Regions from separate parts of the Homo sapiens genome. Here regions 1 and 2 are each linked to region 3. The links come from fine-mapping of genetic effects on gene expression. A gene starts in region 3. Each other region holds a variant in brackets. All regions are shown on one strand. Distances are from middle to middle. Region 1 holds the start of TMPRSS12 (transmembrane serine protease 12). Region 2 overlaps TFCP2 (transcription factor CP2). Region 3 holds the start of TMT1A (thiol methyltransferase 1A).

Region 1 (8,185 bases), 83 kb before region 3:
GTGTGTGTATATATCTGTATATATATAATAATTATTATTTTTAGGGACAGGGTCTCACTCTATCACCTAGGCTGGAGTACAGTGGCATGATCATGGTTCACTGCAGCCTTGAGCTCCTCCTAGGCTCAAGTGATCCTCCCACCTCAGTTTCCCAAGCGGCTGTGATTACAGGCATGTGTCACCATGCCCAGCTAATTTTTTAAATTTTTTGTAGAGATGAGGTCTTGCTATGTTGCCCAGGCTGGTCTTGAACTCCTGGCTTCATGCAATCCTCCCACCTCAGCCTCCCAAAGTGCTGGGATTACAGGTGTGAGCCACCATGCCTGGCTTGAAGAGAATATTGGTGAAACATTCTGGAAAACAATTTGGCATTATTTGGAGAAGATGATGGTATTCTTTATGACTCAGTAATCCTACCACTAGTATGTAGTCCAGAGAGACTCATCTCATATGCATAGTAGTATTAGTTGTAATAGAAAAAACCTGGAAATAATGCAAATATCCATCAATAATAGATTCCAAAGTAGATAAATACATTGTGGCATATGCATATGATGTGTGGGAGAGAGTAAATGAATTGCAGTTAGATAACCACAGAAATGAATGTAAAGAACCTAATGCTGAGTAAAAAAACAAAAACTAGCTGCAAAAGAAAATTTATCATATGATTCCATTTATATAAAGCTCATGTAATGATTAATCTTATGTGTCAACCTAATGGGGCTAAGGGATATCCAGATGGCTGGTAATCACAACTTCTGGGAGTATCTGTGAGGGTGTTTCCGTAAGAGATGTGCATTGGAATCAGGAGAATGAGCAAAGAAGATTGTTCTCGCCACTGTAGGTGGGCATCATCTAATCTGTTGATGTCCCCAGCAGAACAAAAAGGTGAAAGAAGAACAAATTATTTCTCTTGAGCTGGGACATCTTCTCTTGTCCTCAGACATCAACACTCCTGGGTCTCAGGCCTTCAGACTCAGACTGAATCACACTGCCAGCTTTTCCTGTTTCTCCAGCTTGCAGATGGCAGACTGTGGGATTTCTCAGCCTCCGTAATTATGTGAGCCAATCCCTAAAATCTCTCTTTCTCTTTTTTTTTCCTCACTCTCCTGTTGGTTCTGTTTCTCTGGAGAACCCTGAGTAATAAAGTTCAAAAACATGCAAAACTAAAAAATATATTGTTTAAAGCAGTGCTGTATAATAGAACTCTTCACAACGGTGGAAATATTCTACAACTATGCTGCCCAGTATGGTAACAAGTGTCATGTGGCTACTGAGCACTTAAAATATGGCTAATGTGACTGAGGAACTGAATTTTTATTTAATTTAAATTTGAACTTAAATTGTCACATGTGGTGAGGGGCTACCATACTGTACGGCAAGGTTTATAACGAGAATAAATGAAATAAATACAAAATCCAGAATATTGGTTACTTCTGAGAGAAAAATAAAGACAGAATGAGGGAGAGATACACAGGGGATTTCAAAAGCAAAAATAATCTTCTTTTTCTTAAATGGGTATTCTTCTACTGTTATTCTTTAAACTGAGCATATATTTTATAAATATCCTTTTATATGTATTAAATATTCAGTAAAACAAATGTAGTGAATGGGGTGGTGTATACATGGATGTTTGTACTGTTATTAAATTCTGTGTAATCAAATAGTTTTATTTTCATAATTGCTAGCACTGAGACATGCCCCAGGTGGGAGGATAAAGCCTCCCCAAAGCCCAGGCCCCAAGCCCTGGTACTAATGCTCTTGTCCTCCATAACCATGGATCTTAAGCTTTCACTTGGAAAGGAGAGGTAGGATGTTTTGTTTTGAGGCTCACTTAATTTTCTCTAAAAAATTTTAATGGGGTCAAGGCGCAGTGACTCATGCCTGTAATCCCCGCATTTTGGGAGGCTGAGGTGGGCTGATCGCTTGACTCAGGAGTTCGAGACCAGCCTGGGAAACACAGTGAAACCCTGTCTCTACCAAAAAATACAAAAAAAAAAAAAGTTAGCCAGGTAAGGTGGCACATGCCTGTAGTCCCAGCTACTTGGGAGGCTGAGGCAGGAGAATCACTTGAGCCTGGGAGGCAGACATTACAGTGAGCTGAGATCATGCCACTGCACTACTGCAGCCTCAGTGACAGAGTGAGACTCAAAACAAAGAAACAAAAAATGTAATGGGATGAAGTTGGTTAAGCTAAGAGAGCTTCTGTGGACAAGGTCTCTTTTTCTGAGAGGAGAAATAAAGTCCTGCTTCTATTCTTAAAAATTAACAAAAACCAACAAAATTTTTAAAAAACAAAGATGGGAATAAAAGGTGAAGAAGTAGGCTGGGTGCGGTGGCTCACACCTGTAATCCCAACACTTTGGGAGGCTGAGGTGGATGGATTTCTTCAGGCCAGGAGTTTGAAACCAGCCTGGGCAATGTAGACCTTGTCTCTACTAAAAGAAAAAAAGTTGAGGAAGTGGAAAGTAGAAACTGTAATTGTAAACAACTTCTTGGGTGAAATTTTGCTATAGAGGAAAGTAGGGGATATAAAGTCAATTGAAGATTTTTCTAAGGTGGGAGAAACCAGATGTATTATCTGTTGCTGCGTAACAAATTATCCCAAAATGCAGTAGCTTAGAACAACAAAAATTTATCTCGTATTTTCTGTGGGTCAGAACTTTTAAGTGTAGTTTGGCTGGGTGTCTCTGACTTAAGGTCTCTCATGAGGTTGCAGTTAGGGTGTCAGCCAGCACTGTGGTCTCATCTGAAGGTGTGATCGGGGAAGATCTGCCTCTAAGCAGATCATGCGGTGTTGCATGATTCAGCTTTTCGTGGCTGTTCAACTGAGGACTTCAGTTCCTCAATGGCTCTTGCTGGCAGCCTCTCTACAGGGCCACAGGGCAGCTTACAACATGGCAGCAGCTTTACCTTAGAGCAACAGGACTGCAGAGAGTGCTCAGGACAGAAGTCACAATCTTTTTATAACCTAATCTTGAAAGTGGTAGCCCATCACCTCTACTTTCTATTTACTAGAAGTGAGTCACGAAATCCAGCCAACACTAAAGGAGAGGGAACTGACTAAGGCTGTGAATACCAGGAGACAGGGTTCATTGGCGGGCATTTTGTAGGCTACCTACCATACCAGAGGATATTTGTCTGCAGATAGGAGTGATCCCACCAAAGACAGGAAATGACAATGCAGGAGAGGAGAAAAGGCAGAGGAAATCCAGGAAGAAGACCTCTGCAGTTATTGATCCACTGCCTTTTTCATTTTATTTGGAGAGATGGGGTCTTGCTTTGTTGCCCAGGCTGGAGTACTGTGGCTATTCACAGGCATGATCTCACTACCAATCAACACAGGAATTTTGATCAACTCCATTTCCAGTCTGGGCCAGTTACCCCTCCTTAGGCAACCTGGTGGTTCCCCACTACCCGAAGGTCACCATATTGATGCCAAACTTAGTTGACCAGTTGACATAGCATACTACAGTCCAGAACTCCTGGGCTCAAGCAATCCTCCTGCCTCAGCCTCCTGAGTAGTAAAACTAAAAAATATATTGTTTAAAGCAGTGCTGTATAATAGAACTACAGGCATGTGCCACCGTGCCCAGCCCACTGCCTGTGTCACTGCTATTTGATGACTTGGCTGCATATACTTGCTTTATGAGTATGTTAAACCTCTACTATCTGTCATAGCAAGACCCGTCATCCTTATCACGTTGGCTATGGGTTTAAAAAAAGAAAAAAAAAGTCATCTTGCCTTGTTTACAAAGGCATACACAATCTGACCACATCTCACACACACAGAAATACACACACCCCAACTGTGTTTTTCTCCTCCTAATATCACCTTCCACTAAAATATCTGGGGAATAAGGACTTTGTTTCTTGTCAGCCCTCAGAGATCAGCTCATGCTGCAATTTGTTTCTCCAATATCACCTCCTCCACCCCAATTTCGGCACAGCTCTGAGACTCTGCTCCCTTCCCCACATGTTACCATGTGTAAGCCCCAAACTCATATACTCCTTTTATCTAATGCTGCCAACTGCACCAGCCTCGGAAGGATGGTATGAGCAAGGCAACTGTCCTTTTATTGACCTCTACGTTAACTCTCCACCACCTCACCAACTTCCCACAGCCCACACGGTCTTCTTATTACTGAAGGTGTTGGGTTAACAAAGGCAAAGTTCAGTATAGGTCAAGATAGGAATGACAGAACAATTTAAAACTGAACATTAGGTATCACTCTTAAAAACTCTGGGTTATGTTAAAGAAAAATTATTCAGTGATACTCATTAAAGCACAGCAAGGCAGACTTTATTCAGGACCATCCAGATAGGGATAGGGACCATGGCAATGGGATTTTGTAATGGGTAGAGGGACTGGGCTAAAATCCAAACAGAGCAGAGCCAAGGGAGAATTTACAGCCACGGAGCAGGAGAGACGTGTCAGTGGATGGAAAATTACTAAGAGGTAGCATCAGGAGTAATGGCATTCCGGCTAACCGACCTAACAGGATTCTTGCTGGACAGGCCAGGGTGATCAGACATCACCTGGGGGATAGTGGTGGATGAGGAAGCCGATCAGACCTTGAGGGTGAGGGGTTCTTTCTAAACTGACCTACCTATTCCTCGGCCGCCTCCCACACCTCCGGGCCTCACTCGCGCCTCCCCGCCAGGCCGTGCGCCCCGCGTGCCCAGGGCGGGTGGGAAGTACCTGCCGCCATCTTGCTCACCAGCCTCCAAAATGCGGCTGGGGCTCCTGAGCGTGGCGCTGTTGTTTGTGGGGAGCTCTCACTTATACTCAGACCACTACTCGCCCTCTGGAAGGCACAGGCTCGGCCCCTCGCCGGAACCGGCGGCTAGTTCCCAGCAGGCTGAGGCCGTCCGCAAGAGGCTCCGGCGGCGGAGGGAGGGAGGGGCGCATGCAGAGGGCAGTACCTGTTCGTGCCTGTCTCTGGGGAGCCTCTCTTACCTTTTCCCCACCGCTATAG[T/C]CTTTGAATTCGGGTTTCTCCTTTTCTGTTGTCCCAATGGCCTTTAACCAAAATTTTACATACCTAAGCAGTTTCTAGACCGGCTGTAATAACAGTAGTTGTAATAGTGAAATGACACATTTGTATTGTGAATCTGTATTTTCTCCTCAAAACATTCTGGGTTTTATCATCCCCATTTTATAGATTAATAAGTCAGGGGATAAAGAGTTGAAAGGGAGGGCTATTAGGTGACCATTTCATACTATAGTTGAGAAAAATTAGCCCAACAAGTGAAATGGTGAGCATTAGAATTTGCGGCTCTCGACTCACCGTTCCCAGGCTCTTTAACTGCTATTTCACACAGGGAAGAATGTGATACGTGGCCAAAAATTTTTATTTTTATATTTTTGGGGAATAGAGTTTTAAAATTAATGAATTGTGTTGACTTCATGTCTATTTGTAAGTAATCGATTATGGCATATTTGTCTTAACTCTCCAAGTTTCTTTCAAAATATGGGCGTGTCTCCGGTATGTTAGCTTGCTTTGTGTTTTTAACATAGGAATTTAAAGGATTGCATTAATATGTTCAGCTTAGGAAGTAACACATACTATAGATGCTCAGTCCAAATAATATATCATTTTTATTTTTAGATTGTGGAACAGCACCGCTTAAGGATGTGTTGCAAGGGTCTCGGATTATAGGGGGCACCGAAGCACAAGCTGGCGCATGGCCGTGGGTGGTGAGCCTGCAGATTAAATATGGCCGTGTTCTTGTTCATGTATGTGGGGGAACCCTAGTGAGAGAGAGGTGGGTCCTCACAGCTGCCCACTGCACTAAAGACGCTAGGTACGTATTCAGAACACAACTATTTTTATGCTCTTAGGGGATATTTTGAAGTGATAGAGGACCATTTAACTTCAGCCATTTTCAGCTAAGCTATGTTTGCAAATAGCCATAATGCCTTATATATAGTACAGTGTATTTGTTGAAAGGAATCCTTTATTTATTATTATTATTATTATACTTTAAGTTCTGGGGTACATGTGCAGAACGTGCAGGTTTGTTACATAGGTATACATGTCCATGGTGGTTTGCTGCACCCATCAACCCATCATCTAACTACATTAGGTATTTCTCTTAATGCTATCCCTCCCCTAGCCCCCTACCCAGGAATCCTTTATTTTTTACTTTTTTTTTTTTGAAATGGAGTGTCACTCTGTTACCCAGGCTGGAGTGCAGTGGTGCAATCTTGGCTCACTGCAACCTCCGCCTCCTGGGTTCATGCGATTCTTCTGCCTCAGCCCCCGGAGTAGCTGGAATTACAGATGCCTGCCATCATGTCCAGCTAATTTTTGTATTTTTAGTAGAAAAGGGGGTTTCACCATGTTGGCCAGGCTGGTCTTGAACTCTTAACCTCACGTGATCTGCCCGCCTCAGCCTCCCAAAGTTCTGGGATTACAGGTGTAAGCCACCATGCTCGATCATGGATCTTTTAAATTAGAGGCTGGTAAACTTCCTATAAAGGTAGTAAATATTTTACACTTTGAAGGTCATATGGTCTCTCTCACAATTGCATGAAAACCAGCACTGAAAATAAGTAATTGAATGAGTGTGGCTATAATCCAATAAAACTTTATGAACACTGAAATCTGAATTTCATATGTTTAACGTGTCATGAAATATTGTGGTTGATTCAGCCATTTAAAAATGTAGAGTAGGGCATGTTGGCTCATATTTGTTATCCCAATGCTTTGGGAAGCCAAGACGGGAGGATCACTTGAGGCCAGGAGTTTGAGACCAGCCTGGGAAATATAGCGAGACCCTGTCTCTATATTTAAAAAAATTGTTAATGTAAAAAACATGCTTTATGGACTGTATGAAAACAAGAGACATGCCAGATTTGGCCTTCACTATTAGACTCTTTGAAAAAGAGACTCTCTTTGCTTCATCTCCATTGACCCATAAAATCCAACTGCAGTCTGATTTTTGTGGCCAAATGCTGTTAAAGATCCACTTCCATGCCAAATCCAATGACTTCATCTCAGTTCCCATCCTTTTTGACCTCTACAGCCTTTGGCAATGTTGACCACATTCTCTTCTTGAAATTATCTCTTTTCTTGATTTCTAAGACACCATTCTCTACTTTTTTCTCCTGCTTCTTTGATGAGTCTTTGTCATCCTTTACATTGCAGTGTTTTCTAGAGTTTGCCCTCTGCCCTCTGTCATTCTGTACTCTTTCCTAGAGATGTCTAATCTACCTCTGTTTCAGCAATCACCATGTGCTGTCAACTCCTAGGTCTCTCCTGATGAGTCATATTTCCAGCTTTATTGGAGTCACATTTTAAATAAGTCCAAAATGGAATTTACTTTCCTCTGATACTATTTCTTCTCTATTTTCTCAGTTGATAGCATCATCAACAGCTCCATTACCCAGAGAGTTATCTAATTTCTCCCACTTCAGCTATCCAAGTAGTCTCCAAGGCCTGTGAAGGCTCTCTGTGCAGTATCTTACATTTGCTTCTTCTGTCCCTCCACCCTCCCTACTGATTAAAAGTACATCCAGAATATCAGTCTCTATATTCCTAGCTTATGACTTATCATACTTATATTTACACTACTACTTTGATAATAACTATCCTAATTAATATGAAATGGTAGCTCATTGTGGCTTTTATTTCCATTTCCCAAATTACTAGTGATGTTAGGCATCTTTCTATGTGCTTATTGGCCATTTGTATATCTTCTTTGGAGGAATGTCTATTCAAGTCCTTTGTCCATTTTTGAACTGGGCTCTTTGCTTTTTTGTTGTTGAGTTGTAGGAGTTCTTTATGTATTCTGGATATTAATCTGTTGTCAGACACATTATTTGCAAATATTTTCTCCCATTCTGTGGGTCATCTTTTCACTCTCGATATTGTCCTTTGATACACAAAAGCTTTTAATTTTGATGAAGTCAAATTTATCTATTTTTTTTCTTTTGTTGCCTGTGTTTCTGGTGTAATATGTAAGAAATCATTATATCAAATCCAGTATCACGAAGCTTTTCCCCTATGTTTTCTTCTAAGAGTTTTATAGCTTTAGCTCTTAGATTTAGGTCTTTGATTCATTTTGAGTCCATTTTTGCATAAGGTATCAGGTAAGGGTACAATTTCATTGTTTTACGTGCAGCTATCAAGTTTCCCCAGCACCATCTATTGAAAAGTTTGTCCTTTCCCCATTAGATGGT
Region 2 (8,185 bases), 170 kb after region 3:
TGCAGGTCATTAGTATAACATGAGCCCATCTGTGTGTGTGTGTGTGTGTGTGTGTGTGTGTGTATGTGTGTGCATGTGTGATGGGGGAAATTCTTTGCAATGATTACCTCTACAGAGTGGGACTAAGAGGTAAGGGGGAAAGTTATATGATACCATTCTTTATTGTTTGAATTTATCATTCTGTGTATTACTTTCATAATGAAAAAGCTAGTATAAAATTTTCACTTAATTGAAAGGATTATTAGTGAACATATGCAATGTTTTAAAGCAAACTGAATAATTACAGTGTTCTAGCACTATGCCAATTCTTACCAATTATACATCACTGGCACAATAAAAATTTTTTGTAGCTAAAGAAAGCCTAAGAGATTTTCTGGTAAATTTAAGGATCTATAATTTCAAAGTTGTATAAGTTCATTTCCATAAATTCGAAGACTACTCTAAAAAACCCTGACTTCAGGTAAAAATAGTTAAGTGTAATTTATAGTCAATATATTAATAAAGGCCAGGCGTGGTGGCTCATGCCTGTAATCTCAACACTTTGGGAGGCCAAGGCAGGAGGACTGCTTGAGGCCAGGAGTTCAAGACTAGGTTGGCAACATGGTAAGATCCTGTCTCTACAAAAAAACATTAGCAGGGCTTCGTGGTGTGTGCCTGTAGTCCTAGCTACTTGGGAGGCTGAGGCAGGAGGATCACTTGAGCCTGGGAGTTTGAGGCTGCAGTGAGCTATAACTGGCACTGCACTCCAGCCTGGGTGACAGAGGGAGATATAATTCTTGTTTTGTTTTCTTTGAGATGGGGGTCTTACTTCGTCACTTAAGCTACAGTGCAGTGGCATGATCACAGCTCACTGCAGCCTCCAACCCTAGGCTCAAGTAATCACTGCCATACCTGGCTAATTTTTTTAACTTTTTGTAGAGATGGGGGGGCGGGTCTCACTTTGTTGCCCAGGCTGGTCTTGAACTCCTGACCTGGCTTAAAGTGATCCTCCCATTTTGGCCTCCTAAAGTGCTGGGCTTACAGGCATGAGCCACTGTGCCTCATCTATATATTTAATTTTATGCATCATTTGCAGTAAGAGTCACAAATGCAAAGATTTGGAAGAAACCTTAAAAGTCACCTAGCCTTGGGCCAGGTGCGGTGGCTCACACCTGTAATCCCAGCACTTTGGGAGGCCGAGGTGGGTGGATCATGAGGTCAGGAGTTCAAGACCAGCCTGGCCAACATAGTAAAACCCCATCTCTACTAAAAATAGAAAAATTAGCATGGCATGGTGGTCCGTGCCTGTAGTCCCAGCTACTCAGGAGGCTGAGGCAGGAGAATTGCTTGAACCCGGGAGGCAGAGGTTGCAAGTGAGCTGAGATCAGGCCATTTAACTCCAGCCTGGGCAACAGAGTGAGACTCCGTCTCAAAACAAAAAAGTCACCTAGTCTTGGCCAGGCACGGTGGCTCACACCTGTACTCCCAGCACTTTGGAAGATGAGACGGGGGATCACTTGAGCCCAGGAGTTCAAGACCAACCTGGCAGGCAACACAGTGAGACCTCATTTCTATATTTTATTTTATTAAAAAAAATTTTTTTGAGACAGTCTTGCTCTGTCACCCAGCCTGGAGTGCAGCAGCCTGATCTCAACTCATTGCAACCCCACCTCCCAGGTTTAAGCAATTCTCATGTCTTAGACTCCCAAGTAGCTGGGATTACAGGTGTGTGCCACCACGCCCAGCTAATTTTGTATTTTTAGTAGAGACAGGGTTTCACCATGTTGGCCAGGCTGGTCTTAATCTCCAGGCCTCAAGTGATCTGCTTGCCTCAGCCTCCCAAATTGTTGGGATTACAGGCATAAGCCACGGTGCCCAGACTCATTTCTATATTAAAAAAAAAAAAAAAGAAAAAGGCATCTAGTCCAACTTTCCTACCCAAACACCTAGACATAAAAAAAAAAAAAAAAAAAAAAAAAAAAATCCAAACCAATAGCAGCCTGCTGAGGAAAGAACTGAGGTTGAGAACCAGTACTAGGAATATAAGACAACCAGATACGTCTCCTCCTCAAAATGGAGACACCTGGTAATCATTCACTAAGAAGCATTTTGGTGTAATATAACAAGTTGCTCAGGTCAGTTTTAAACAAGTCATTGACTTAATTTTTTGGTTTCAAAGTTTTCAATTTGTTTCAAACCAAGAGAAATTAGACCATGATGCAGATTGAGTTTAATGAACAAAAATCTCTGTATAAAAAACATTTAAACCTTATCAAATGCTTTAAACACACACACACACACACACACACACAAATCCAAATCCAATACACAATCTTAGAACATTATCTTTGTGTACCTCAACATAACCTGTAAAAGTATTTCTAGATAAAACTTTACAAGTGAAGAAAGAAAACCCATGATGTTACACTTACACACTTACACACACACACACACACACACACAATCATTCTTAAGGAAGAACAAAAACATGGTAAGAGTGTGAACAGGAAGGGAATGCATCTTTTTTTGTAAAGCTTCTATTAAAAAACATAGCATGAGTAAAATAACTTCCTATGCCAAGAGAAGATGCAGAGAGAGGAAACAGAAAGCAGGGATGAGACTAACTCATTAATAAATAGTTTGAGAATGTCATTCAAGAACAGTAAATTTGGGGAGTTACAGATAATCCCCAGTTGTCACCACCTCAAATTCTTTGATTCCGATAACTAATGACACTTAAAAAGCATCTATGTGTTCATTTCTTGTAGGTCTTGATTTGTTCATCATTATTTAGGTGTGCTTTGTCTCTTTCAGTGGTTAATTCCTCAGTTCATACTCAGTGTTATGTTGTAGTCACCAGAAGGGCCACAGTAATAAGCGAAGTGAACACAGGTTATAATGGGTAGCACTGGTGGTATGAGAGGGTGAATAAGGAGGGCCAGATTGCCTGGTTTGGATTTCAGCATCACTGCCTGCCAGCTCCTGGCACCTAGCAAGCTACTTAGCCACTGTGTGTCTCCATTTCCTCATCTTCGGTTGGGGGTCACTATAGCACCTACTTCAGATAGTGTGATTAGGGGGTTAAACAAGATGGTCATTCAAAAAATTTATCACACTGCCTGGTCAATAAATGTTAGCTGAAAATACTATTAGTTGTGGTATTACAGGGGAACCAAAAGGAAAATTCTGTATTTCTCCTCACTGATAAAGTTTTCAGGGACAAACTGTGGCAAAAAGCAGAGATACCAGTACATTTGAGACCAGTACAAAGAGATTGAAGACCTAGTCTTATGAATATAGATACCCATTTTTATATAAGAAAAAAATTACAGGGCTCCATATCACAAAATTTAAGATCTTCCTGTTAAACATCACACAATTCCCATCATCATTATGCCCTACATACACTCTAAATTATGTAGAGTTTCTACTGATATTTAACAACAACAAGGTCCAGAAATTTAACTAAAACAGCTGCAGAACTGCATATTGGGCAGTAATCTGTGTGTACCACAAGAGCTTGGGCCAACACAGAGGGCCAGGATTCTGCCTCCATGGCCTGGACTCCTCCACACACAGTCAGACGAGTCAGGTTCTTGCAGACCTTCAAATCTCCATTCATATCCCCCTTCAAGAGGGCCGTTTTCAGAGGTGAAGGAAGGAGCAGCCACTGGGCA[C/T]GAAACGCCGCACTCCTACTTCAGTATGATATGATAGCTATCATTGGTTTCTGCTGTTAAAAAAAAGAGAGAGAGAGAATCATCTTTAGTCACCTCTAAAACACAGCAGGAGAAAAAAAGTATGGTAAGATTCTCGTGAGAAGGGGAGAAAAGGGAGGTGGAGGTTGCAGTGAGCTGAGATCACGCCACTGGACTCCAGCTTGGGCAACAAGAGCGAAATTCTGTCTCAAAAAAAATGCATTATAAAAACAACATGCCTCAATTTCCTCATCTGTAATGGAAGATGGAAGAGAATGGCAAAAAGCTGGGCCAGGCACAGTGGCTCATGTCTGTAATCCCAGCACTTTGGGAGGCCAAGGTGGGTGGATCGCTTGAGGTCAGGAGTTCGAGACCAGCCTGGCCAACAAGGTGAAACCCATCTCTACTAAAAATACAAAAATTAGCCAGACATGGTGGCACGTGCCTGTAATCCCAGCTACTTGGGAGGCAGAGGGAGGAGAATCACTTGAACTTGGGAAGCGAAGGTTGTAGTGAGCCGAGATCATGCCACTGCACTCCAGCCTGGGCAACAGATCGAGACTCTGTTTCAAAAAAAAAAAAAAAAAAAAAAGCCAACTTAAAAAAAGGAACAATCTCTAATATTGTCACTTTCTTTACCCAAATATGGTTACTTTTCCTATCTCTCCTCAAAGAAGTATGTACTTTGCCTAGTAGTAGTAAAGCTGTTAAACTGCTTAGAGAAAGATGTTTGTCTTACTATTACCTTTCATTGTGTCCAGAATAAAACATGCTTCTTCCTGAAAGTTCTGTATCATCTGAAAAATGCAAGAAAATTTGTGATTATTTAAATGAAAAACAACCCCTTTATATTCCTGTGTCCCTAAGGACTACCCCACATCCAGAGGGATTTATATGGGAGGCTTTACAGGTCACAAATAATGTATTTCTTGAATATCTAGGATCATAAAAGTTTTTTCCTCCCCTCCCATTTGGTTTTTAAATATTAAAAAACTAAGCAGATTGGAAGAGTTGTTTTAAAGCCTGGTATGCATTTCCCTGGGTTAACCCCAAGACTCTCCAAGGAGCACACGGACACAAATATGTGCATACAGGAGAACTGACTTCCGTGTCTTCAACTCCCATATGTGCTCTTTCCTAAAACCTCTTTAATTTTCCTTCCCCACTTTCCCTTCTCAAACTCCCTTCTCCCAGGGATAAACTCCCTTCTCCCAAGATAAAGGCATGAGTTTCACCCTCCCAGGATCCTAATAAGGTGGCCCATGATGTGAAAGCTTCAGGTGGCAAAGTGGAATGGCGAAGGTGAACGCTAATAACTGAGCAATAGACCCTTTTATGAGCCACATGGTTTCTAACTCTTTCCTTTCACCAGAATTAAAGAGTAACCTAATCACAAATTGTCGTAAGACAGAGGATTCAAAATGATTTTTTGGTAATATCACTATGTAATTTCTGGTATATAATTCTGAAGTATAATCTAATGACATTGTCATTACAAAATTCCATCCATTCCTATCAATTTATGGGAATCAAGTCCCTCAGCATTTATATCTAGAGGAAAAAAACAGAATGGAATTGATGCTGAAATCCTGTGTCATTCTAGCAATCAATAGGCAGTATTCAGCTACAAAGGAAATAATTATGTGCAAGGGTACAGGTAGGGAACGAAACAATTTCATCGAACTCATTCATAGATATACCTGTAATAATTTTTTCTTAATTTTTTTTTTTTTTTCTGAGACAGAGTTTTGCTCTTGTTGCCCAGGCTGGAGCGCAATGCCCCCATCTCGGCTCACGCAACCTCCGCCTCCTGGGTTCAAGGGATTCTCCTGCCTCAGCCTCCTGAGTAGGTGGGATTATAGGCACGTGCCACCACACCCGGCTAATTTTGTATTTTAGTAGAGACAGGGTTTCTCTATGTTGGTCAAACTCCTGACCTCAGGTGATCTGCTTGCCTCGGCCTCCCAAAGTGCTGGGATTACAGGTGTGAGCCACTGTGCCTGGCCTTCTTTTTTTCTTTTTTTGGATGAAGTCTCGCTCTGTCGCCTAGGCTGGAGTGCGGTGGCGCAATCTTGGCTCACCGCAACCTCTGCCTCTCGGGTTCAAGCAGTTCTCTGCCTCAGCCTCCCAAGTAGCTGGGATTATAGGCACCTGCCATCATGCCCAGCTAATTTTTGTATTTTTAGTAGAGATGGGGTTTCACCATCTTGGACACGATGGTCTTGAACTTCTGACCTTGTGATCCACCCGTCTCAGCCTCCCAAAGTGCTGGGTTTACAGGCATGAGCCATTGCGCCTGGGCAGCCTTCTTAATCTTTAATAATTACTTATTAAAACATGTAGCATATTTACATTATTTTAATCAATTGTATAATTATGATAATTCCATTATAATAATTTTTAAATTTTTATTTAAAAACTTTATTTCAAACAAATATAGTAGGATAATCAATAAAAGATGTTTGTGCATAAAAATATGTTATGGTAAGATGGCCAGGCGTGGTGGTTCACATCTGTAATCCCAGCACTTCGGGAGGCTGAGGCGGGTTGATCACTTGAGGCCAGGAGTTCGAGACCAGACTGGCCACATGGTGAAACCCAGCCTCTACTAAAAATACAAAAATTAGCCAGGCATGGTGGTGGGTGCCTGTAATACCAGCTACTTGGGAGGCTGAGGCAGGAGAATTGCTTGAACCTAGGAGGCGGGGTTGCAGTGAGCCGAGATCACACCACCGCACAACAGCCTGGGCGACAGAGTGAGACTCTGTCTCAAAAAAAAAAAGTTACAGTAAGATAAAATTCACCGGGGGAAGTAAATGAAAATAAGAGTTCAAGGAAACAGAGGAATAGTATAAGAATTCTAACTGTTAAAGAAAAGCACAATCATGTATTTTTTTTTAATGGATGGTGGTGGTATTAAATCATTTTTGTATTAAGGTTACATGGGATGCAATTAGAATAATGATGTAACCATTTCACTTAAAAATGTCATTATATATGCCCAGAAATGACATCTTTTACAACTATTTAAACTTTAACAAAAAATTTTAAGTCAACCTAAAAATGTGCATGGGAATATGTGGTTTTTAAAATATTTTAGGACCAGGCGCAGTGGCTCACATCTGGAATCCCACCACTTTGGGAGGCCGAGGCGGGTGGATCACTTGAGGCCAGGAGTTTGAGACCAACCTGGCCAACATGGCAAAACCCCATCTCTACTAAAAATACAAAAATTAGCCAGGCGTGGTGGCGCACGCCTGTAATTCCCACTATTCGGGAAGCTGAGACAGGAGAATCACTTGAATCCAGGAGGAGGAGGTCGCAGTGACCTGAGATTGGGCCACTGCACTCCGGCCTGGGCAACAGAGAGAGACTGTTTCAAAAAAAAAAAAAATTAGGAGGAAAGCAAGCAAAAAAGTATGAAACCCTCTGATCTAGAAAACAGAACACTCTGCCCCAGGAGAACTGCTCTTGCTCCATGCGCTGACAAATTAATCATCATCTGGTAATTCAACTGTACTGAAAAATCTACCTCATCACTGATGAGCACATGAATTCCTGTTGGCCCCTGCTTGTAAATCTGGCTGATCTGGCAAGGGGAAATGCTGAAAAGCTGAGCAATTTTTTCTGTCAATTCAACAGCTGTTAGTTCTTCTAGATAGATAGCATGGTAAACTGCAAAAGGGAGAGAGCAACAGCAGTCAGTACAAAGTTTGTCCACTCTTACAGGTAACTTGATCACTAGGAATGCCCACTTTTCTGAAGGACTCAGAAATCACACTGCCTAAGTTCAAATCCTGGCTCAACCACTTGCAGCTGTGTGACCTAGGGCAAGTTATTTAACATTCCTAGGCCTGATTTTTCTTGCATAAATACCGGAGATAACAGTAAAATCCTCCGCAAAGAGGAGATATTAGTTGTAAATATTAAAGCATATAAAAAGTGTTAAGAATAGTACCTGGCTGGGTGTAGTGGTTTACACCTATAGTCCCAGCAATTTGGGAGGCTGAGGCAGGGAGATCGCTTGAGCCCAGGAGTTCAAGACCAGCCTGGGCAACATAGGGAGATCCCATCTCTACAATAAATAAAACAATTAGGCAAATGAGTAGCTTTAGTTCTAGCTACTCGGTAGGCTGAGGGGAGAGAATCACTTGAGCCCAGGTGGTCAAGGCTGCAATGAGTCATGATTGTGCCACTGTACTTCAGCCTGGGTAACTGAGTGAGACTCTGTCTCAAAAAAAAAAAAAAAGAATGGCACCTGCCATGTATTAGGAACTTAATAAATGCTAGTGATTATTGTTACTTCTAGCAAATACTAAATCTGCTGTTTGATAGTTTCCCATCACACATGCCCATAAGTTATCTCTTCACCTTTCTTCATATCTGTCCTAGTGTGTCCAGAACAACCTACCGAAGAAAGTACCATTTGAGTCTCCATCCTCATGCTTCTGCTGCTGTTGCTGCTGCTGTTGTTGCTGCTCCCTCAACTGCAGTGATTCCTGACAAACATA
Region 3 (8,185 bases):
TAGGCACGTGGAATTGCCAAAATGATGTTTAATGTTCTTCAGGTTATATTTTAGTGAATAATACTGATATGTGTTCCAAAATTGTATGGGATGTCTAAAATTCCAATGTCTGAGTACATGTTATCAATCAAAATTAAGGTTATGTTAAACCATTGTCAACCACAGAAATAACCAGATTTGTCAATCGTGTTTTTAACTGTAACTACCCTAGAAATTTTGTCATTCACAGACAATTGTCGTCTTGTTTTAAGCTTTTTCAAGAGACAGCTTATAATCAGCTATAAGACTTTAACAGGTGCTTTCACATGCAGGTTTCTGATAACTTTGGAAATCGTGACATGGGAGTAAAGACATACATACTACCAGTTTAGATTCTTTAATGGTTAGTAGTTTAATCAGATATTCTATGTCTTCTTGAATCAATTATGGTATTTTCAATTTTGCAGAAAATTAATTTATCCAACTCTTCAAACATATTAGCATAAAGTTGTGCCTAGTATTCTCATATAAATTTTTCTATATTATCTGTACATGTGCCCTTTTATTCCTATTATGTCTTTTCTTGAAGTCTTATTACTTTTCATTGAGATAAATTTACATATAATTAAAGTGCAAAAACTTTAAGTGTACAGCTTGATAAATTTTTACATATATATGTGTGTATATATATATCTGTTTAACTTCCAACAAAATCAAAATATAGAACATTTCCAATATCCCTAGAAGGCACCTTTGTGGCCTCTAAGTCAATAACCCCAAAATGTCTATGTAAGTAAGTCTGCTTGAATTTCATGTAAATAAAATGCTACAGTATGTACTCTCTTCCTTTAATCTGTAAGATTAATTTTTGTTGTTGTATGTATCAGTAGTACATTTGTTTTGTAGGGCTTTTTGAAAATTAAGTATTCCATTATTTGAGTTGACCATTCAATTTCATTTTTATTTTTTATTTTTATTTTTTTGAGACAGTCTCATCTCACTCTGTCGCCCAGACTGGAGTGCACTGGCACAATCTCAGCTCACTGCAACCTCTACCTCCCAGCTTCAAGCAATTCTCATGCCTCAGCCAGGCTGGTCTCAAACTCCTGGCCTCAAGTGATCCGCCTGCTTGGCCTCCCAAAGTGCTGGGATTACAGGTGTGAGCCACGGCACCCAGCCTGATAATTCAATTTCATCTGTCTCAACTGGGCTTTGTGACCCAGGTATTGTCCTTTGCTAAGAGCCTCAGAATGCTGTTTTGTTTTCACAATTCTGAAAAACAGTTTCAGGAACAACATTCAGGCTATTTCCCTAAACAAAAACAAAAGATAAGTGCAAAAGAAAAAAAGAAAAGAGTGTGTCACCAGAAGGATAATGAGGTTGTCTGATTTGTAAAAGGAAATATCTATAGCTGGAGATAAATGGCAAAGTTGTCCAGCCAGGTAGGTTCCCAAAAGTATTTTAATTTTCTTAATGATTATGTCTGGGGTTACTTTGGTACTTTTCTTACAAGCAAACTTTGTGGCCATAGGCCTCTCCATTTTAAAAAGAATAATTAAATTCTCTACAAAATTACTTTCATTCTCCTTTGCTGAGGGCTTTAGAATCTTCCAGTCCTGTGGAGTTGCTCAGTTTCTTCCCTGGATCCTGTTTTCAAAAACAGACAGAAGGGCAACCCGCTCGGGTCCCCTTCCACACTGTGGAAGCTTTGTTCTTTCGCTCTTCACAATAAATCTTGCTGCTGCTCATTTAAAAAAAAAAAAAAGGAAAGGAAACAGGCCACAGACAGAAAACAGGCCACTGATTGCCTCAGGATTAGGAATGCAGAAGGGAGGATCACAATGGAGCAAGAGTAATCTTTTAGGGGTGATGGATATGTTCATTTATCTTGGCTGAAGTGATGGGTTCACAGGTATATAGATATGTCAAAACTTATCAAACTGTACACATTAAATATGTAAAGTTTATTATATGTCAATTCCACCTAAAAAAATCTGTTAAAAATGGAATAGATACAATATTTATAAAATACATGCAGGTTATAACAAATCATGAAACAACAGAACACTCCCTGTATCCATCACCCAGTTTTTTAAAGTAAATGTTTACTATTTTTAAAAAATTATTTTTTTCTGTGTTCCCTAGCCACCCTAAAGCTCAGGCCTTTTTCTTTTTCTTCTTTCTTTTTTTTTTTTTTTTTTTTAAAGAGATAGAGTCTCACTATGTTGCCCAGACAGGATTTGAATTCCTGGGCTCAAGGTATGCTTCTGTCTTAGCTCCTCAGTAGCTGAGACCATGGGCACCCACCACTGTGCCCAGATTCGGGCTTTCTTGTAAAAAGCGGATGGATGCTTGAAACTATTTTCTGAATCCCTTTGGCTCCCAAATGTGAATATTCTGGGAAATATTTTTATCCAAATTAGCTGAGTAATCGAGTAGTTAGGCACATTTTGAAGACTGAGGCTTGTCCTTTAAAAGAAGGGCAGCCCACAAACTGACTTCCTTGAGCCAAAAATTGTTTTAAAAGGGGAAGTACAGCCCAAAACAGTGATTTTAAAATATCAACAAAAAGAGTCAAATTCTGTAAAATATTTAAAGAGATTTATTCTGAGCCAAATATGAGTGACCATGTCCTGTGACACAGCCCTCGGGAAATCCTGAGAACATGTGCCCAAGGTGGTCAGGGTACAGCTTGGTTTTCTACATTTTAGGGAGACATGAGGCTTCAATCAAATACATTTAAGAAATACATTGGTTCAGTCCAGAAAGGCAGGACAACCCGACGCGAGGCAGGGAGCTTCCAGGTTATAGGTACGTTTTAAATTTTTCTGGTTGACAATTGGTTGAGTTTATCTAAAGACCTGGGATCAATAGAAAGGAAATGTCTGGGTTGCAATAAGAGTTGTGGAGACTGAAGTTTTATTATGCAGATGAAGCCTCCAAGTAGCAGGCTTCAGAGAGAATAGATTGTAAATGTACTTAAGGTCTGCGTTGATGTGAATGCCGGCTTGAGGTATAATGAGGCATATCTGACCCCCACTTCCCCTCATGGCCTGAAACAATCTCTCAAGTTAAATTTTAAAAGCGCCCTGGCCAAGGAGAAAGTCCATTCAGATGGTTAGAGGCCTTAGAACATTATTTTTGGTTTACAAAAACGTTGAGTTGTGAACACTGAGAGCCTCTGCCCAGAATGTAAAAGAGAGAATTCTTGCTGACTGTGGCCGGGCATGCATGTCCTTTCACTTCCTTTTTTTTTTTTTAAAAAAAAAAAAAAAAAAAAAAAAAACAGGGTTTGGGCGGGGGAAGTAAGGGGGATGTGTTATGATAAAGGGGCCTTGGCAGCACTCTTCTGGTGTGGTTTGACCAGGCTCCACCCACGAATTCTGTTTTCTTTTAGAGGTCACTGGAGAGCCCGGTGGGGTGTAAGTACACTGCGCTTATAAAACTCTAGCAGGAAGCTAGCAGCTGTCTCCAAACCCAGAGAAGGGGAAACAGGAATCGATTAGGAATAAAGGATTATAATCCACTTTCCTTCTGAGGAAAAGCTGGGAACCTTCTCATTTTGCCTTATGAAAACTAAGCTGAATCGACTGCTGCCAAACATCTATTAGGCAAAATTGGCCTCTTGCCCATGATTTGACTTTCCAGCACAGCCAGTTCTTTTTCTCCTCTGCAGCTGATTGGCTCTGGAGTGTGGCCAGAAGCCTCTCTCCTGCAATTAAAGGAGTCGGGTCTCTAACTGTTGATCTGTTTTTTTCCCTTCTGAGCAATGGAGCTTACCATCTTTATCCTGAGACTGGCCATTTACATCCTGACATTTCCCTTGTACCTGCTGAACTTTCTGGGCTTGTGGAGCTGGATATGCAAAAAATGGTTCCCCTACTTCTTGGTGAGGTTCACTGTGATATACAACGAACAGATGGCAAGCAAGAAGCGGGAGCTCTTCAGTAACCTGCAGGAGTTTGCGGGCCCCTCCGGGAAACTCTCCCTGCTGGAAGTGGGCTGTGGCACGGGGGCCAACTTCAAGTTCTACCCACCTGGGTGCAGGGTGACCTGTATTGACCCCAACCCCAACTTTGAGAAGTTTTTGATCAAGAGCATTGCAGAGAACCGACACCTGCAGTTTGAGCGCTTTGTGGTAGCTGCCGGGGAGAACATGCACCAGGTGGCTGATGGCTCTGTGGATGTGGTGGTCTGCACCCTGGTGCTGTGCTCTGTGAAGAACCAGGAGCGGATTCTCCGCGAGGTGTGCAGAGTGCTGAGACCGGTGAGTGAAAGGGTGTGAGGAGGACTAGTTAGTAGCAGCTATTATCATAGAGGGCAGGCCTGTCAATTTCAGGTGGCTGAAACATTTTAACATAAAAAGTAAACTACTAGAAAATACTGTAGAATTTTTTAAAATTTTAGCGTGGGAGAGAAGCTATAAAGAGAAAGATTGATAAATCTGAATATAAAAACTTAAAACTGCTATAAAGAAAAAACCTCCTGGCCGGGCACAGTGGTTCACGTCTGTAATCCCAGCATTTTGGGAGGCCAAGGCAGGCAGATCGCTTGAGGTCAGGAGTTCGAGACCAGACTGACCAATATGGTGAAACCCCATCTCTATTAAAAATACAAAAATTAGCCAGGCATGGTGGCAGGTGCCTGTAGGCAGGAGAATCGCTTGAACCTGGTGGGGCAGAGGTTAAAGTGAGCCAAGATTGCACCACAGCACTCCAGCCTAGGCAACAGAGTGAAACTCCATCTCAAAAAAAAAAAAAAAAAAAAAAAGAAAGAAAGAAAAAAAAGAATAAGAAAAAAAAACTCCCCAAAACAAAGTTAAACTACAAAACAAGCTTGGAAAAAATATTTGCCAGGGATGATAGACAAAGGGTTAACTTCCCTCATGTTAAAAGACATTACATGTCAATAAGATCAATATTTTTCAATAAGAAAAACAAAAGGGAAAATGGGCAAATAACAGGAACAGAAATGTAAACCAATTATAGGACAAAAGTGCTCAAACTTAAAGAGTTAATTAAAGGAGATACTAATTTTACCTATTATACTGTTAGGGACTTCTTTTAAGGTCAGTATAGGGTTGGGGTGGGTTTAGGGGACTGGACACCACCATACACATTAGAAGAGGTACCCTCTTTGGGTGGTATCTGATAATATCAAAATTTAAACCACACATACTCTTTTATCCACATGCAAAAACTTGTCCATACACAAGAATATTAAGTAGAATTTGTAATTGCACAAACTGGAAATAACTGAAATGTCTATCAATAGGATGCTATGTAAGTGAGTTGTCATATTGTATAAAGGAACACTGTGCAGCTGTCAGAAAGAACAAGAAGAGTTATCTGTGCTGATACTTAAAAATCCCCAAGGGATAATGTTTAATGAAAACAAAAAGCAATCAAGCCACAGAATGTTAGGTAGAGCGTAGGCCCACCACATGCCCATTGTGTGAGGCAGGGAGAGGAGATACATATATGTGTATAAGTTAATGGGAATGACAGACAAGTAACTATTAACAGTGGTTGCCTTTGGGGAATGGGATTGGATTCAGGGAAAGAATTACTTTTCATTTTAAACCTTTCCGTAAAGTCTGTAATTCTTTATACCTGTATGTAGTTTTCACATATTACCCTTATTATTTTTAGCTAGTTTAAAATCGTTTTATATTCTGAACAAAGTTGAAGATATGGATATCTTAACATTTGAATTTACTCTTCTGGGGGAAAGGCATGTTTTGTAATCCCCAGTTTTCATTTTTTGTTGAGACAGGGTTTCCCTCTGTCACCCAGGCTGGAGTGCAGTGGCATGATCACAGCTCACTGCAGCCTTGACCTGCTGGACTCAAGCAATCTTTCCGTCTCAGCCTCCCCACCCTCCCAGCAGCTGGGACTACAGGCATGCACCACCACACCCAGCTAGTTTTTGTATTTTTGTAGAGATGAGGTTTCGCCATGTTGCCCAGGCTGGTCTCAAACTCCTGGGCTCAAGTGGTCTGCCCACTTTGGCCTCTCAAAGTGTTGGGATTACAGGTGTGAGCCACCATGCCCAACCATCAGTTTTATTTTCTAATAGAGGAAGTTCCTCAGGAAGAAAAGAACTTGGAGATAGGGTTTAGGGAAAATCATACAATCCTGTCTTGGCTCAATATCAGAGTAGTAAATAAAAAAGGACTGATTCTTATACCCAAATGCTGGGTTCTTATATGCTAAGACTGGGCACCAACTGGCACATTAGTAGATGTTTTGCTTACAGTGTTACTAATCTCCCAACACCGCTGCAAGGCAGGTAATTATTATCTCAGTTTTCCAGTGCCAAAAATCAATTGAACTCTTAAAGTTATCACATTCGTGATAGTCTTCCTTAGCTCCTGCCAAGCACCCACTCTCTGCTGGATATAACAAGGGAACTTTATTACATTTTCATTTAACCCTGTCAACAGTCCTCTAAAGTACATATCTTCATGTTAGGACAAAGAAACAGACTCAGAGAGATTAAGGAATTTGCCCAAAGTTACACAGCTAGTAGACATGGCTCTCTTTAATGCAAATGCAAATATTCCTTTTTTTTGAAACAGAGTCTTGCTCTGTCGCCCAGGCTGGTGTACAGTGGCATGATCTTGGCTAACTGCAGCCTCCACCTCCCAGGTTCAGTGACTCTCCTTGCCTCAGCCTCCCGAGTAGCTGGGTTTACAGGCACATGCTACCACGCCTGGCTAACTTTTATATTTTTAGTAGGGATGGGGTTTCACCATGTTGGCCGGGCTGGTGTCCAACTTCTGGCCTCAAGTGATCCACCCACCTTGGCCTCCCAAAGTGGTGGGATTACAGGTGTGAGCCACCGCGCCCAGCCAAATGCAAATGCAAATATTCTTACCACTGTACCACAGTGCTTGTTATTGGGGTTTTCATCTTTCTGATTTCAACATTGCTATCACTCTTGCTGGCTCTTCTTCCTCTACCCATCTCCTACCACTGGGGTTCCTTTCTTGGTGACACAGGATTTTTGCTCCTTAGCTCAGCTAGGTCCAGGTTCTTGTCTCACATTCAGGAAGAAATAGGCACGTGAACATGGAAGAGTGAGTGGAGTAGAATTTATCAAGCGAAACAGAAAGCTCTCAGCAAAAAGAGGGGTCCTGAAAACAGGTTGCTGGTTGCCCCCTTCGCAACTGAAAAGCTGATGGAGCTGGATTCCCTGTTTGTAAAGGCATGAATTCCTGGTGGCTCCACCCCATTCCCCCAGCGTGCATGTGGGGCCTTAGTGGGCTGCAGGCATGTTTAGGCAAGCCCCTGTGCAAGTTCCCTTATCTGCACAAAACATCTCATGTAACCATTTGTGGGACTGGTCAGAAGTTCTTCCGGGACCCTTCCCTACTGTCTGCCTAAAGCAAGCTGGCTAACTCCTTTCATTGGTTCATTTCACTTATATACACTCCCCAGCAATCTCATATACCTCCACAGTTCTCAAATACCACATATATACAGATGTTTCCAAATCTAAACATCTATCCCAGGTCTCTCTTCTGACCCCAAACCTTCATATCCAGCCGTCTACTCAACAGTCTCCTGGATTGCTCAGAGGCACCTCTTAACATATGTAAACCAGAGGGCAACACTGACCTCCCCAAACCTGCCTCTCCTCCTTTATGCTGCCCTATCCTATGAAGATTTTTTTTAAAATCAGGGCCGGGCACGGTAGCTCACGCCTGTAATCCCAGCACTTTGGGAGGCCTAGACAGGAGGATCACTTGAGCTCAGGAGTTCGAGACCAGCCTGGGCAATGCGGCGAAACTCTGTCTCTATAAAAAAAAAAATTAGCTGGGTGTAGTGGTGTGCACCTGTTGTCCCAGCTACTTGGGGGGCTGAGGCAGTAGGATTGCTTGAGCCCAGGAGGCAGAGGTTGCAGTGAGCTGAGACTGTGCCACTGCATTCCATCCTGGGTGACAGAGCCAGGCCCTGTCTCAAGAAATAATAAATGAATAAATAAATCAGGAAATTCCAATTTTTCTATTCGTAACATAGGTCTTACACTGACCCATATAATTTGGGGAAACTCCATCACTAAACTGAATTCTCTCTCTAAACTCTGCCTGAGGAGCCAAGACTAGGATAACTAGAGGAGGCCAAGAAGAGTGGTGCAGTTACCACAATTTTGTGAGGTGACTGTCTGGTCCCTTGCTCCTTACTCCCCTCAGAGGTAGATA

What was found. PIP is the estimated chance that this variant, and not a neighbour inherited with it, causes the effect.
Region 1: its variant is fine-mapped to the expression of TMT1A in whole blood (TOPMed, PIP above 0.99).
Region 2: its variant is fine-mapped to the expression of TMT1A in whole blood (TOPMed, PIP above 0.99).

Annotation. Positions count from the first base shown.
Region 1 is chr12:50,838,233-50,846,417 of GRCh38, forward strand. It overlaps TMPRSS12 (transmembrane serine protease 12), which reads left to right and starts at 4,694. Exons shown (of 5, transcript NM_182559.3): 1 at 4,694-4,919; 2 at 5,610-5,805. The coding sequence starts at 4,733. It also overlaps the pseudogene RN7SL519P. The variant T/C (reference allele first, on the strand shown) is at 4,980.
Region 2 is chr12:51,091,570-51,099,754 of GRCh38, forward strand. It overlaps TFCP2 (transcription factor CP2), which reads right to left. Exons shown (of 15, transcript NM_005653.5): 12 at 8,086-8,185; 13 at 7,207-7,349; 14 at 4,420-4,471; 15 at 2,087-3,709. The coding sequence ends at 3,672. Among named protein-coding and RNA genes, the nearest start is that of CSRNP2, 12 kb to the left of the region's middle. The variant C/T (reference allele first, on the strand shown) is at 3,657.
Region 3 is chr12:50,921,291-50,929,475 of GRCh38, forward strand. It overlaps TMT1A (thiol methyltransferase 1A), which reads left to right and starts at 3,725. Exons shown (of 2, transcript NM_014033.4): 1 at 3,725-4,246. The coding sequence starts at 3,749. RefSeq lists enhancers at 2,839-3,048, 4,062-4,605.